2 separate regions of the Homo sapiens genome follow, and region 2 is linked to region 1. The links come from fine-mapping of genetic effects on gene expression. Tissue or cell type: blood mononuclear cells. Region 1 holds a variant in brackets; the other region holds the start of a gene. All regions are shown on one strand. Distances are between the middles of the regions.

Region 1 (8,107 bases):
TTATATAAATGGAAGCATACAGTATGTATTCTTATTTTTTCTGGCTACTATTGCTTATACAAGTCTTTGTACTTTATCTTGGGTAGATACCTAAGAGTGGAATGGCTGAATTTATGTTAAGGATGTGTTTAACTTTTTAAGAAGCTACCAACCTGTTTTTCAAAGTGGTTGAACCACTTTACACTCTCAGCAGCAGTGTGAGAGTTCTAGTTGCTACACATCCTCACCCTCACTTGATATGGTACGTCTTTTTAAAATTTTGGCAGTTCTAATAGATATACAGTGGTCTCAGTATGGTTTTGGTTTTCATTTCCCTAAGGACTGATGATGAGCATCTTTTCATGTGGTCATTTGCCATCTGTATATCTTTGGGGATGTGTCTGCTCAGGTTTCCTGCTCATTTTTTTATTAGGCTGTATATTTTATTAAGTTTTGAGAGGTTTTTATTTATTCTGGCTACAAGTCCTTTATCTGATATGTATTTTACAAATATTTTCTCCCATTCTGGCTTGTTTATTTATTTTGTAAGTGTCTTTCAAAGAGCAAAAGTTTTAAATTTTGATGAAGTTCAATGTATCAAAGTGTTCTTTTATGATTCATGCTTTTTATGTCCTAAAAATACATAGCCTAACTCAGAGGTATAAAGGTTTTTTCTAGAAGTTGCAGAGTTTTAGGTTGGATACTTAGGTATGATGCATTTTGAGTTAATTTTTATATGATACAGGTAGGACTGAGTTTTATTCATTTGTCTGTGGATATGCAGTTGTTTGAGCACCACTTCCCTAATAGGCGATTTTTTTCTTTGTTGACTTGCTTGTCATCTTAGTCAAAATATCAATTGACTATATATGTGAGAGTCTGGGCTTTCTATTCTGTTCCATTATTCTGTATATCCGTCCCTTTGCCATGACTGTACTACCTTGATTATAGTAGCTTTACAGTCAGTCTGGAAATTAGATAACATAAGTCCTTTAGCTTTGTTCTTCATTTTAGAAATTGTCTTAGCTATCCCAGTTCCTTTGCTTTTCTGTATACATTTTACAATCAGCAGGTCAGTTTCTACCCCCAAAAGCATGCTGCAGTTTTTAAAAGGATATTTTGAAGAGGAGGATTGTTTAGGATCTATTTGGGGAGATTAACATCTTCACATATTAAGTCTTCCTATCCATGAATAAGATCTCTCGTTTATTTAGATCTTCTTTAAATTCTCATCAGGATTTTGTAGTTTTCAACATACAAACCTTACACATATTTTGTTAACATTTTGCTAAGTATTTTTCTTTTTCGTTTTCTTTTTTTTTTTTTTTTTTTTTGCTGCTGTCGTGCACGGTACTTTTTAAAAATCTTAAAGGCCAGGCGCGGTGGCTTATGCCTGTAATCCTAGCACTTTGGGAGGCTGAGGTAGGTGGATCACCTGCGGTCAGGAGTTCGAGACCAGCCTGGCCAACATGGTGAAACCCCGTCTCTACTAAAAATACAAAAATTAGCCAGGCATGGTGGTACATGTCTGTAATCCCAGCTACTTGGGAGGCTGAGGCAGGAGAATCGCTTGAACCTGGGAGACGGAGGTTGCAGTGAGCCAAGATGGCACCACTGCACTCCAGCTTGGGCGACAGAGTGGGACTCTGTCTCAGTCAATCAATCAATCGATCAATCAATTCATTCATTCAATTTCCAGCATTGTAAGCAGAGTCCCTGATGAGAAAGTCACTAGACTGCCATGGGGCAAAGGGCAAGCTAAGCATATAGAGTTGCTCCAGTTTTCTGGTTGAACGGAACAGAAACCTTGTTCCTTGCTGCTCCCTTCTCCCATGGCTTTGCCTTAAGGCCAGGCTCCTCTCTGCCTCTCACAGGGCTCTTTTTCTTTTCTTTTTCTTTTTCTTGAGACAGAATCTCTCTCTGTCACCCAGGCTGGAGTGCAGTGACACAATCTCAACTCACTGCAACCTCCAACTCACAGGGTCAAGTGATTCTCCTGCCTCAGCATCCTGAGTAGATGGGATTACAGGCTCCTGCCACCACGCTCAGCTAATTTTTGTGTTTTTTAGTAGAGATGGGGTTTCACCATGTTGGCCAGGCTAGTCTCGAACTCCTGGCCTCAAGTGATCCGCCTGCCTTGGCCTCCCAAAGTGCCGGGAATGCCACCATGAGCCACCGCACCCAGCTCACAGGGCTCTTTGATTAAAGTTGACCCTTTCTTGAGTTAGTTTTATAATCAGTCCTGATCAGTCACTGTTTTTTGCAGAAATGTTGACAGCAAAGTATGTTGCTTAAAAATCTAATAGCTTTTCATGGTTGTTTTCCTCTCTGAAGATTTTATATGTATTTTGATTATCAGTATATGACATCTGTGTAGGCATATTCCTTGGTGTTAGCAGAACCTAGACCATTGTCATCAGAGGTGTTACATCTGGAGTATAAAATGGTCAGCACTGTTTTGGAGAACTCTAGAATGGTAATGTGAGAGCTTAGCTTTATAAGCTGTTTTTCATATTGGTATTGTCTTTGTTTTTTTTTTTTTAATTAGACTTTATTACAACTACCACCTGCTATGGTAGAAGAGGGTGAGGAAGTTCAAAATCAAGAAACAGAATTGGAAACAGAAGAAGAGGCCATGACTGTTCAAGCTGACATCATACCCAGTCCAACAGACACCAGCTGCCGTCAAGAAACTCCAGCCTTTCAAACTGACACCACCCCCAGTGAGACAGGAGCCACTTCCACTCCAGAAGCCATCCCTGCTTTATCTGAGACCACCCCTACTGTGGTAGGAGCTGTATCTGCACCGGCAGAAGCTAACACACCTCAGGATGCCACATCTGCCCCGGAAGAGACCAAGTAGCCAAACTGTAGTCCTTCTAAAGGAGGACATGGCAGTCAAAAAGTCTGAGTAAAGCTGTTTTTTGTATTTTATATTTGCTTCTGCCATTTTACTGTCACTAATTAATGTTTAGTTCTTATATTTGTTAACTGATTTCGGTGTCTTGAATATATTTTTTTAAATTATGTGTATGAACAATTCTAGTTTCATTTGTTCAATCAGAAGAGCAAATAACCATTCCTTTCATGTTTTGATCACTGAGTGTGTCTGTAATCATACCTACATTAAAATCATTTTCTATGAATATATAATATATACTTCACATTTTTAGTGAACTTCTCTAAAGAAGAGGACAGAATATACTGGACTTAACCACGAATACCCTTGAGTGTCCAAATTGGGAAGGAACTTGTTTCTTCTGTTATACTATCAAATGCTTAAATTCTGTTTCCTTTTTTCTTACCTTTGTTTGCTGTCTTTATGTAAAGATATTATTAGCAGTAAGATACAGGTTTCTTCAATCTATCAAAGTGGTTACATGCATTTCCTTCTCTCAAATCTTAGAATGCCTTAGAATCACCTAAGATGTCTGTTTATTCTTGAGGCACACCTCAGACTGAATGAGTCAGAATCTCAGGATTAGAGCCTAGGAATCTATATTTTAGGAGGTTCTCCACACCACTAATGTTTGGGTTGCTGGCAGAGTGGCATCAGCCAAGGCTGGTTAGGCTGAGCCAGGATTTGTCATCAGCTAAATAGGAGGACTCTGCCAAATCAATCTGGGCAAGAAGCAGGATCCTGAGTCTGGGCAATGAGAGTCAGAGAACTTAACTCCTGTGTGCAGGGTAGAATTTTCCCATGGCAGAAATTCTGAGTTTTCTGCCTTATTTTTCTTGGGATAACCAGCCACAAGGAGACCTTCAGGTAAAATGTGGTTCAAATATGGGAAGGCAGAGGTACCTGGGACCTTGCTACTCAAGTATGATTTGTGAACCAACAGCATCAACATCGTATTGAAGTTTGTTATTTATAGAAATGCAGAAGTTTGGGCTCTGCTCCAAACCTATTAAATCTAAATCTACATTGCAACAAAGTCCCCAGGTGATTCACAGGCACTTTGTAGTTTGAGAAGCACTGTACTAAGATTACTGTGTTGTCTTCACATGAATGAGGCTATAATGTAGAATTACCAGTGAATGTGACTAATGTTTTCTGACAAGGGACCTCTGCTTACAAGGTCCCTGGGCATGGTGCCCAGAACTGGAAAAAAAAAAAAAAAAAAGGAAATGTTTATATGTATGTGTAGAGGGGAAAATTGCCCACTAGTTCTCTATTTCCCATTTTGATCATCTGCTAGAGTATCTAAAGGGGAGGGGAGCATTTACCCCAGAATGTCTCCTCTAGTGCATCCACCTATGGGCCTGGCCATGTCCAAGGAATCTTTGAAGAAACAAGCAAGAACTGCACACTACCATTGAAATCCTTCTGGTCCTGACATTTTGAAGGAATGATTGCTTCATAGGGAAATTAAACCCAGAAAGTCAAGTCAGTTATATTTTTGAGTGACTAGTGTTTGCTCAGCTCTACCAGGCTGTGTTGAATATGGTACAGACTCTCATTTTATGATGTATCCTACTGCATCAGGACATTTGTGTCAATGTCAGGTGATGAGGGGAAATGAAAGTGATGAGACGATGAGAGGAGTGAAATACCAAGGACGC[G/C]ATACTAGGAAACCCAGGTCTATTTGTTATCAGAGTAAGGATCAAGCCAGATAGCCTGTTATGTAATTTCTCCGATAAAAGATTTTGAAAGCAGGTGCTGTGGGCATCTGTATGGGGAATCGCACTCATAGAATTATTTTCATTTGTAAATATTTGGTATCAGGCCAAGCAAGGGAAAGAAGCTTTACTGTATTACCATCTTTCCTGGAAAAGATTGATTTTTCTCTCTCCCTTAGGGGATATGAGGTATGATACCTGCAACCAAAATAAGCTGGCTGTTAAGTGCTCTCTCCTTAACTATTGTCCAAGCAATGTACATCACTCTTGCCTAGATGAGTGACCATACTTTTTTCTTTGCTGCTTGGTTTTTCTATCACTAAAAAGCAAATTTAGGTGGAAGATGGATGGGTAAGTCCTTTGTCCTTGTCAAAAGAATTTAGAAAGGGTAAAGGTGGTGGGATTTGAATTCTTTTAAACGGTTTATTCATTGGAAAGGCAAGTGAGTGGCAGTTGACTGTAGAATCTTGGGAATTTTTGAAGGAATTTAAGAGCTGTACTTATTTTAAATAATGAGGAAACAATCAGAGAGACTTAACCAGGGTGGCAACTATGGAAGAGTGGGGGTAGAATCCAAGTCTACAGTTCTACGGCACTGCTTTGTTTATTTTTTCAATCAAGCACACATGAGGGATTGCTTAATAAATTCAAGAGTTTTCTATATAGTTTGGGATTACTACAGACACAGGTACTCTAGCCATGTGACTATTTCAGATTAGTGTTCCCATTGCTCTCCATCCTATTTTTCATATCTAAATGTGTCATGATTTTAGAATCTCTTTGTAAAGAAAACCAAAAAGAGCCATGCCCAAAAGAATGAGCATGAAATGAAGCAATTCAAGTATTTAGAATTTCTTCTTCTTTTTTTTTTTTTTTTTTCAAAATTCTGAGTTAAGAAAGTTCATTGCCAACAGTTGAGGATAAATAGCTCTATTGATTTAGGCAAATGAATGAGAAGATTTAAACATCATCAAGACTCCCAAAGTTGGTGTAATAAAAGTTGAGATGTTTTGCTAGATGCTGAGAGAAAAGGCATAAATAGGCCATTTGTGCTCCTGTAAACAAATGAAATTTTGTAATGATCAAGAGACAGCAAGATATTATAAAACACACTTTGGACTCATCGAGACCTGGCTCAGAGTTGTACCTAATTTGCTTATCAGCATTTGGTTAGACCTTAGACAAATTTTATAACCTCTCTAAGCCCATTTTCTTTATCTGTAAATAAAGGAAAAAGATCTGTTTGGATTTGGGACAGGAGAGTTGTCTGTTTTATAGGGTAATGTTTATGAAAATAATTTATCACCTAGGTACTTAGTAAATACCAGTTTCTGTCTCTGTTTTTCTTCAAAGCTTTGTTGACAATGTAGGATATTGCCAACTAATCCTTTGACTTGAGTGCTTAGCCATGCCCCAATCCAGGCAGCATGAAGAATGATCAAGAAGGGGACACCTAGTGGCAGTTGACCTTTGAGGATCTATCTAGGATCAGGTTACTGATTTGGGACCTCTGAATCAGTACATCATAACATCGAGAGTGATCTCTGCCAAAATTAAAATTCTGTCAGAACAGTATAAGCAGAAGGAAGACATTAGGTCTTTCTGAAATATGGAGCTGATAACTTCTATCAGTTCTGAATTCTGTACTGTCCCACCCCCAAATCATCTATATTGTTGCATGTGCTTAGCTTTGTGCCTTGAATTGCTATTTCCTTTTTATCTTGCACTCAGATGGTATTTTTAGAGATGTTTCTTCAATCAAAACAAGATAAAGTTAAAAAAAAAAAAAAAACAGTGACCCTTTTGCATAAGCCAGAAGAGCAGTGCCTTGCTTCCTGTGAAAAATGCTTGGCAGTTAGCCTGTGTAATTATTTAGCAATCATGTTAATAGATGTTTAAGAATAATGGAACTGGAGCTGTACTGAGCCAAGGATGGAAATGAAGACATGTGAGACTATTTTTTCTTCATCCACCGATACTCTTCAGTTACAAGGATTTAATTTAAAAGGGTTTTAATTAAATGGAATCCAGAAGCTTTGGACGCTCCAGTTTTTCTTCTTAGAGACAAACCCTAGCTCAGTTTCCTGGAGCTTGACTCAGAATGCAGCATGGTACTCCGGACTGACAGTGTGCCAGCTTTATTCACTTATCTCTCTACCTTTTGGCTTGCGTTTATTTCAGGGCTGCCTGACATTTTGACCTTATGTACAAAGATGGCCGATACGATTATTTTTCATCATATATTACAGAAAATACTACTCTTGAAAAATACTCTGAGAAATATGTTCTATGGTCAGATAAGTTTGGGAAACAGTGAATTATTGTTCCTCCTTTGCAGAATCACAATGCACTGTTAGCTAATTAAAGACTCTCAGATGTCCCACTGGAAAGAATCATGTTTAGCTTTGTTTAACCTAGCATTTCCCAAACTTATTAGAGCATAAAACTTTGTTTTTGTTTTTTTTTAATAAGATAGGTAGCTATTTCCTTAGAACACAGTTTGGGAAACTTTTTGTTCATTTGTTTTAATAAGATACCTTAGGTAGCTATTTCCTTAGAACACGAGCCGGGTGCAGTGGCTCACGCCTGTAATCCCAGCACTTTGGGAGGCCCAGGCGGGCGGATCACCTGAGGTCAGGAGATCGAGATCATCCGGCCCAACATGGTGAAACCCCGTCTCTACTAAAAAGACAAAAATTAGCCAGCCATGGTGGCAGGCACCTGTAGTCCTAGCTACTGTGGAGGCTGAGGCAGGAGAATCACTTGAACCCGGGATGGGGAGGTTGCAGTGAGCTGAGATGGCGCCACTGTACTCCAGCCTGGGCGACGAGCAAAAACTCCTTCAAAAAAAAAAAAAAAACATAACTTAGGTAGCTATTTCCTTGGGAACCAATATCTTTACATTGGCTAGAACTGTGAATCGCCCTTTAAAGATAAAGCCCCAAAATACATTTTTTTTCCCTACAGGTAACCAGAGGGTGAAGTAACAGCCGAAGAGGAAACCAGAAGTGAAGTGATTTGTACAAAATGTCGTAGTGTAATTTATTGAGTGTCATGTGGTATTAATCGCAACATCCTGAAAATGCAAATGAATAAAAGTTTGGTCAATGTACCATGACATTCCTTCATGTGAGCCTCCTAAGAAAAGGTCACTGAGCATTCTCTGTTTACATTTTAATTTTAGACTCCAGAATTTCACACTAAGTTTTTCTTCTCATTTCTTATGCAGTAAAAGAAGAGTTTGTATTTCCAATGTGTCTGGCTTTCTGTTCTTTAGTTTTTGTTTCCTTAAAAAGTTTAAACTCCAAAAAGAGAAAAGGATTACTTAGCATAACCAATAGAGGTGGTCTGGAAATAATAAAAGAAAATGAAGGCAAATATAAAACATGAAGACAGTTTCCTCGCATAAGAATATTTAACACACAAGGACCCCAGCAGTTACTTTGCATTAAGCATACTGAATTCTTTCTTGATCTCCAGAATAACTGTCCCCACAATCCTCTTCCCC
Region 2 (8,092 bases), 110 kb before region 1:
ACACAATAACATAGGGGGAAAAAGGACTTCACATTTAATCTCCATTCCTACAGGCTTTTGCTTTCACGTTCACACTGTCTATTTTTGTTTTTATTTTTGTTGTTGTTGTTGTTGTTGTTGTTGTTTTGAGATGGAGTTTCACTCTTGTTGCCCAGGCTGGAGTGCAATGGTGCAATCTCTGCTCACTGCAACCTCCGCCTTCTGGGTTCAAGTGATTCTCCTGCCTCAGCCTCCCGAGTAGCTGGGATTACAGGTGCACACCACCATGCCCAGCAAGTTTTTGTATTTTTAGTAGAGATGGGGTTTCACCATGTTGGCCAGGCTGGTCTTGAACTCCTGACCTCAAGATGATCCACCTGCCTCGGCCTCCCAAAGTGCTGGGATTACAGGCGTGAGCCACTGCGCCTGGCCCACACTGTTTATTTTTTTACTGTTTTTTTAAATTTTTATTTTTTTGAGATGGAGTCTTGCTCTGTTGCCCAGGCTGGAGTGCAGTGGCCTGATCTCAGCTCACCGCAACCTCCGCCTCCCCAGTTCGAGTGATTCTCCCGCCTCAGACTTCCGAGCAGCTGGGACTACAGGCGCCCGCCACCACACCCGCCTAATTTTTTGTATTTTTAGTAGAGACAGGATTGTTAGCCAGGATGGTCTCAGTCTCCTGACCTTGTGATCTGCCCGCCTTGGCCTCCCAAAGTGCTGGGATTACAGGCGTGAGCCACTGCACCCGGCCTACACTGTTTATTTTTGAACATGTCATACATATTACAAAATTCTAAAGTTACAAAAAGGTATAAAATATGAAATAACTTTTCTCCCCTTCCTGTTGTCCCCTCCCCACAGTTCCTTCTTCTTGGAAACAATAGTGTTATCAGTTTCTTGCATGTGTTCATCCAGGGAGAGTTTAACTAGAGACACATGTTTAATTTACGTATGGATTTGGGAATGGTAGGGGTGTGCATTGAAACTCAGTAGTAAGAAACCAAGTTATTCAATTTAAAAAAGGGCAAAAAATATGAATAGAGGCTTCCCCAAAGAAGATATATGAATAGCAAATAAGCACATGAAGAGATGCTCAATTAGTCATTAGGGAAATGTAAATGAAAGTCACAACGAAATATATCACACACCTATTAAAATGACTAAAATTAGGGGCTGGGCGCCCCCGGTGGCTCACGCCTGTAATCCCAGCACTTTGGGAGGCCGAGGCAGGTGGATCACTTGAGGTCAGGAGTTCGAGACCAGCCTGGCCAACATTGCGAAACCCCGTCTCTACTAAAAATACAAAAATTAGCTGGGTGTGGTGGCGTGTGCCTGTAATCCCAGCTACTCGGGTGGCTGAGACAGGAGAATTGCTTGAACTCGGGAGGTGGAGGTTGCAGTGTGCTGGGATCGGGCCACTGCACTCCAACCTGGGCGACAGAGTGAGACTCCATCTCAAAATGAATATATAAATAAATAAATAAAGACTAAAATTAAAAGATTGTCCATATTCACATAGAGGGGAACAATGCACACTGGGGCCTTCCAGAGGGTTGGGTGGGTGGAGGGAGAGGATCAGAAAAAATAACTAATGTATACTGGGCTTAATACCTGAGTGATGAAATAATTTGTACAATGAACCCCTATGACACACCTTTACCTATGTAACAAACCTGCCCATCCTGCACATGTGCCCTTGAACTTAAAAATTTAAAAAAAATTGTCCATATTAAGTGTTGACGAGGTGGAGAACAAACTAGAATTATATGCTCCTGATGTGAATGTAAAATAGTACTACTTTAGAAAGATGGCAGTTTCTAAAAACTTAAACATATACTTGCCGGGTGCAGTGGCTTATGCCTGTAATCCCAGCACTTTGGGAGGTCAAAGTGGGCAGATCACGAGCTTAGGAGTTCAAGACCAGCCTGACCAACATGGTGAAACCCCGTCTCTACTAAAAATACAAAAACTAGTCAGGTGTGATGGCGCGTTGCCTGTAATCCCAGCTACTCAGGAGCCTGAGGCAGGAGAATCTCTTGATCCCAGGAGGCAGAGGTTGCAGTGATCCGAGATCACGCCATTGCACTCCAGCCCGGGCGACAGAGCAAGACTCCATCTCAAACAAACAACAAACAAACAAACACACCTATCGTATAACCCAAATATTTCACTCCTAAGTATTTAAGAGCAAAGGAAGTATATGTCCACATGAAGACTTATACACAAATGCTCATAGTGGCTTTATTTGTAATAACTGAGAACTTGGAACAACTCAAATGTCTATCAGCAGATGAATAGTTTATCAAACTGTGGTATATCAGTAAAATGGAACGAATGTTAAGCAATAAAAAAGGAATGAACTACTGATACATGCAACAACATGAATCCATCTCAAAATCATTTCGTTGAGTGAAAGAAGGCATGCACTGTATTATTTCATTTATATAAAATTCCATGAAAAGCAAACTATAGTGACAGAAAGCAGATCAGTGGTTGCCTGAAAAGTGGGTGGGAACAGTGAAAGGCACAGATAGCAAAAGTTCACGAGGAAACTTTTAGAGGCTTTGATATGCTCATTATGATTTTGGCAATAGTTTCACAAATGTATGTTCATGTCAAAACGCATCAAATTTTACAACCTAAATATGTGTGGGTTATTGTATGTGAATTATTTTTATTATTATTTTATTTTTATTTTTTGAGGCTAGTCTCGCTCTGTCACCAAGCTGGAGTGCAATGGCGCAATCTCGGCTCACTGCAACCTCCGCCTCCCAGCTTCAAGTGATTATTCTCCTGAATCCGAGTAGCTGGAACTACAGGCGCGCGCCACCACGCCCGGCTAAATTTTGTTTTTTAGTAGAGATGGGTTTTCACCATGTTAGCCAGGCTGGTCTCAAACTCCTGACCTCAGGCAATCGGCCAGCTTCAGCCTCCCAAAACGCTGGGATTACAGGCGTGACTACCGCGCCTGGCTGGGTTATTGTATGTCAATTTTTACCTCCATAAAACTGTTAAGGCCTGTAATCCCTGCACTTTGGGACCCTGAGGCAGGCGGATTACCTAAAGTTGGTGAGTTCGAGACCAGCCTGACCAATACGGAGAAACCCTGTGTCTACTAAAAATACAAAAATTAGCTGTGCATGGTGGCGCATGCCTGTAATCCCAACAACACGGGAGGCTGAGGCAGGAGAATCGCTTGAACCCGGGAGGCAGAGGTTGCTGTGAGCCGAGATTGCACCATTGCATTGCAGCCTGGGCAACAAGAGCGAAACTCCGTCTCAAAAAAAACAAAACTAAACTAAAACACTGTTAAGGGCAGTTAAAACCCAGCCCATATTCCCAGGCTGTTTTTTTTGTTTTGTTTTGTTTTTTCTTTAGGGTTGAAAAAAAACTAAATCCCCATTCACCGCACACGGCACTCTTCACTAACCACGAGAAACCCCACCCAACACCATCCACCGGGTCCCTCCCTTGCCCTCCTAATCCCGCCAGCGAGGTGTCTTCTCTCTGCCGCCCGCTAGAGGGCGTGTACAGAGGAGGTCAAAGCTCTTGGCTCGCTAGCTCAGCCCCAACGCCTGCATGAACTTCCGGCTACACGCCATTCCGCTTCCCGAGGAACGCTTGGGCTGTTGTACGGGTTCCCTACGGGACTCTGAAGGCTGAGGATATCCGGCCCGGAGCGTTTGTGCGGCGCGGAGTTAAGCGCCCCGGCAGTAACTTAAGGGAAGTGGACCAGGGTTGCCGCTGCCCAGAGCGGTCCTTTAGTTTCCACTGGAGTGGAGGGAAGAGTGCTGCCATGGCAGCCCCTGCGCAGCCCAAGAAGATCGTGGCCCCTACGGTGTCCCAAATCAATGCGGAGTTCGTGACCCAGGTGAGCTCGGGCGAGTCTGGTGTGTGTGAGTGGGTATGGACGTCGTGGCCCCGAGGCCTGGTGGTGGGGTTTTTTTTCAGGATTTAGGAGTCCGGAGGAGGCATTCGTTTGTTAATTGATTCACACACGTCTTTTTACTGAGTATCAGCTCCGTGCCGGCCACTATGCTAGGTGCTGGGCATACCGTGGTGAAAGAAGCTGCCCTGCCCTGGGGAGTTCATGGCCCAAGGAAGACAGACGCATGAAAATAAAACTACTGTATGAGTTTTGCTGTGTTGGAGTTTGTCTCAGGAGCAATGGATTCAGAGAGGAGGGAACACCCCAGTCTATCTGAGACTGGCAAGTAGGCTTCGCAGCAGAGTGATGCTGGACTGCCTCTTCAAGTAGGAGTAGGCTTTTTCCTGGTCCTTAGAGTGTCCTGAGTTTTTGAGCAGCGATGAGAAACTGACAAGACACCTCCAAATAGACCTATCTAAAAACAGAGTAATTCTGTAGTTTGAGAGCGTTCATTTAGAATCTGTTTACTATCTTGCATTGTGAGCCACAGTTGGCTTTGGATAGGGAACCACAGTCCTGTGGTTGTCAGCATCATTCCTCATTCTTATTATTTATTTGTGAATTGCATAAGAGTGTAAGTAGTTCAATGTAGAAGTTATCATGCCCACCTGCTTCTTTATTCTTTATTCCTTGTCTCAACAGATTTGCCAGGGCAGAAGCCTAGGGAGTGATTTTGAATCCTCCCTTTCCCTTAGTCCCTACATTTCTACATTCTAAATATCTTTTGAATCTATCTGGTGTTCTACATCTCTGTCACCCTAAGCTTGGTTGCCATTGTTTTCTGCCTGGACCAAGGTATCGTAATCTGTTATATTGTCCTTCCTCTTGCTCTGCTCTAGCCCATTCTTCATGTTGCTTTCCGAGTGATTTCATACAAGTGCAAATCTCATCATATCACTTGCCTTCTTAAAATTTCTGCCTTCCGGCCGGGCGCAGGGGCTCACGCCTGTAATCCCAGCACTTTGGGAGGCCGAGGCGGGCGGATCACGAGGTCAGGAGATCGAGACCATCCTGGCTAACACGGTGAAACCCCGTCTCTACTAAAAATAAAAAGAAAAAAAATTAGCCGGGCATGGTGGCAGGTGCCTTTGGTCCCAGCTACTCGGGAGGCTGAGGCAGGAGAATGGCGTGAACCCGGGAGGCGGAGCTTGCAGTGAGCCGAGATCGCGCCACTGCACTCCAGCCTGGGCAACAGTGCGAGACTCCGTCTCAAAAAAAAAAAAAAATCTCTTCCTTCCTTTCCTTCCTTTTCTTCTTTCAAGATAGGGTCTCACTATGTTGGCTGGGCTCCAGTGAGCCTTCCACCTCAGCCTCCCTTGTAGCTAGGACTACAGGGACTACACTAAGGCTGGCTGTCCTTAAAATCTTCAGCCGGGCGCGATGGCTCATGCCTGTAATCCCAGCACTTTGGGAGGCCGTGGCAGGTCGATCACCTGAGGTCGGGAGTTCGAGACCAGCCTGACCAACATGGAGAAACCCTGTCTCTACTAAAAATACAAAAGTAGGCAGGCTTGGTGGTGCATGCCTGTAATCCCAGCTACTCGGGAGGCTGAGGCAGGAGAATTGCTTGAACCCGGGAGGCGGAGGTTGCAATGAGCCAAGATCGCACCATTGCACTCCAGCCTGGGCAACAAGAGCAAAACTCCGTCTAAAAACGAAGCAAAAAAAAAGAAATCTTTAAAGAATTCTAATTACCCTTAGGTTAACGGCTGAAATCCTTCATAGTGTTGTGTGATTTGACCTGTGCTTATATCTTCAGTTTCCTCTTTTTCCTCTTCCTTTCTAACTCTGTGCCTTAGCTGTACAGAACTTCGTTTATTTGAATGTGCCATGCTATCTTTCATCTCCTGGCTTTTCAACATTGTTCCTCTGCTAGGAATCCTCATTTTTTTTCTCCCCACCTTCCTTTATTCATTCTCAGCCTTCTACACTACTTTAGAGAGGCTTTTCCTGACAACTTAAACGAGATTAGAGGTCTCTTTCCCCATATACCTGCATTTTTGCAGTAGAAGTCATTTATTAGTTTACTTCTGTCATGGAACTCACATTTTAGAGGGAAGAACCAGACAGATGAACGGTATAGTTTCATACACTGATAAATGCTATGAGGAAAATGAAACAGGGCTGTGACAGACTGGTTTGAGGTGTATGAAAGACAGTCAGGAAAGTTCTCTCCGAGGTGACATTTGAGCTAACACCTGAATGCAAAGAAGGAGCCAGTTTTGAGAAGAGCAAGGAAATAGCAAGTACACACACCTTAAGGTGTGAATGTAAAGAAGGCCAGGGTGGGCCGGGTGCGGTGGCTTGTGGCTCGCAGTGGGATTACACCTGTAATCCCAGCACTTTGGGAGGCTGAGGTGGACGGATCACCTGAGGTCGGGAGTTCGAGACCAGCCTGGCCAATATGGAGAAACCCTGTCTCTACTAAAAATACAAAATTAGCCGGACGTGGTGGTGCATGCCTGTAATCCCAGCTACTCAGGAGGCTGAGGCAGGAGAATCACTTGAACCCAGGAGGCAGAGGTTGCAGTGAGCTGAGATCACGCCATTGTACTTCAGCCTGGGCAACAAGAGCGAACTCCATCTCAAAAAAAAAAAAAAAAAAAAAAAAAGGCCAGGGTGGCCTTGAAGGCAAAGATTACCTTTCTTTGCACTCTAGAAGAGCCTAAACAGTATCTGGCAAATATTAGACATTAATGTTTGTTCCCATGGCCCAAGATTGCTGAGAACCTTCCTTTCTCACACTACATCTTAATGATCTGGCATATTTGTTCATTAATTCACTTATGTATCCATTTGACAAATAGTCATCACACAGTGTGTGCCTAGTACAATACCAGGTGCTGGGAGTACATGGGGAATAAAACAGACATGTTCTCACAATCTAACACACAGTCTGTGGAAGGAGACTTTAAGAGACTTAAAGAACTCACTGTAGTTTAATGTGAGAAATGCCAGATTGGGGTATAAGGGAAGTGCTTTGAGAAAAGAGCATGAAATTATTACTTTGTTGAAGGAAAGAATTTCCAAGAAGAATTTTCTCATTGAGAAAGTATCATTTGAGTTGGACTTTGAAATGCAGAGAGGAAAGTGGGGGAATTGGTTTTCTAGGTAGAGGGGACATCTTGGGCTTAGGTGTTTTCTTCTTCTTTCTTTTTAATTTAATTTCTGAGCATCTGGCATACCTAGCCAGAAAAGGTACTTTTAAAATTATTTATTGAATGAATGAGATCAAGAGGTTAAAATTTAGTTTTAAGGAGATTGGAGATCTGAACTTTGTGACCTCACTTTTTTATACCATTATATTTTTATTTCCTTTTTTGTCTTTCAGTAAGGTTTACTTTAAACAGTTTATACTGTCATAGCTGTACTAAGTAGAGAATGGAAAGTTTTTATTTTACATGAGACTAGAGAGTTTGAGGGAGGGCAATGTGTATATACTGTGAGATCGTGATATTTGAGACATTACACGTTAGACCCCAAGGGAAAGGAGAAACTCAGAGAAGAGACATGATAGATGCTTAATAAATGTTTGCTAATCTTTAATCAAGTACAGATGTACAGTAAGCAGTTTAGATCAGAGATAGGATATACATTTTTATTTGTAATTTCCTGAGTCCATCATAACAGGTTAGACTCAATTCTCTTAATGGTATGATGTAAGAAGAAGATGACTGAATTTATGATGCCCATAGGGAGCAGAATGAGGAAATGAGGACACCACAGAATAACTGGGGGTGAGGTGAAGATTTTCTATTGAGTTGGAGAGTGATTGGTAATTTGGGAAGGTGTTATTTATTTATTTATTTTAGAGACGGAGTCTTGCTCTGTCGCCCAGGCTGGAGTGCAGTGGCTTGGTGTTGGCTCACTGCAATCTCCACCTCCCAGGTTCAAGCAATTCTCCTGCCTCAGCCTCCCAAGTAGCTGGAATTATAGGTGCACACCACCAAGCCTGGCTAATTTTTGTGTTTTTGGTAGAGATGGGGTTTCACGATGTTGGCCAGGCTGGTCTTGAACTCCTGACCTCAGGTGATCCGCCTGCCTCGGCCTCCCAAAGTTCTGAGATTACAGGCATGAGCCACCATGCCTGGCCGGAAGGTGTCATTTAAGTAGGAAGTTACTGTAATATTTTTAGAGGCTATTCCTCAGGGCCAGTGTCCTAACTGCCTGGGAGGCTCTTTAAGT

What was found. PIP is the estimated chance that this variant, and not a neighbour inherited with it, causes the effect.
Region 2: it holds the start of AQR, and the variant in region 1 is fine-mapped to the expression of AQR in blood mononuclear cells (TOPMed, PIP 0.98).

The regions. Positions count from the first base shown.
Region 1 is chr15:34,851,527-34,859,633 of GRCh38, reverse strand. AQR (aquarius intron-binding spliceosomal factor) reads left to right here. Exons shown (of 35, transcript NM_014691.3): 35 at 2,528-7,852. The coding sequence ends at 2,842. Among named protein-coding and RNA genes, the nearest start is that of ACTC1, 60 kb to the right of the region's middle. The variant G/C (reference allele first, on the strand shown) is at 4,543.
Region 2 is chr15:34,965,297-34,973,388 of GRCh38, reverse strand. AQR (aquarius intron-binding spliceosomal factor) reads left to right here and starts at 3,647. Exons shown (of 35, transcript NM_014691.3): 1 at 3,647-3,850. The coding sequence starts at 3,776. RefSeq lists enhancers at 3,544-3,653, 3,704-3,853, 5,022-5,586.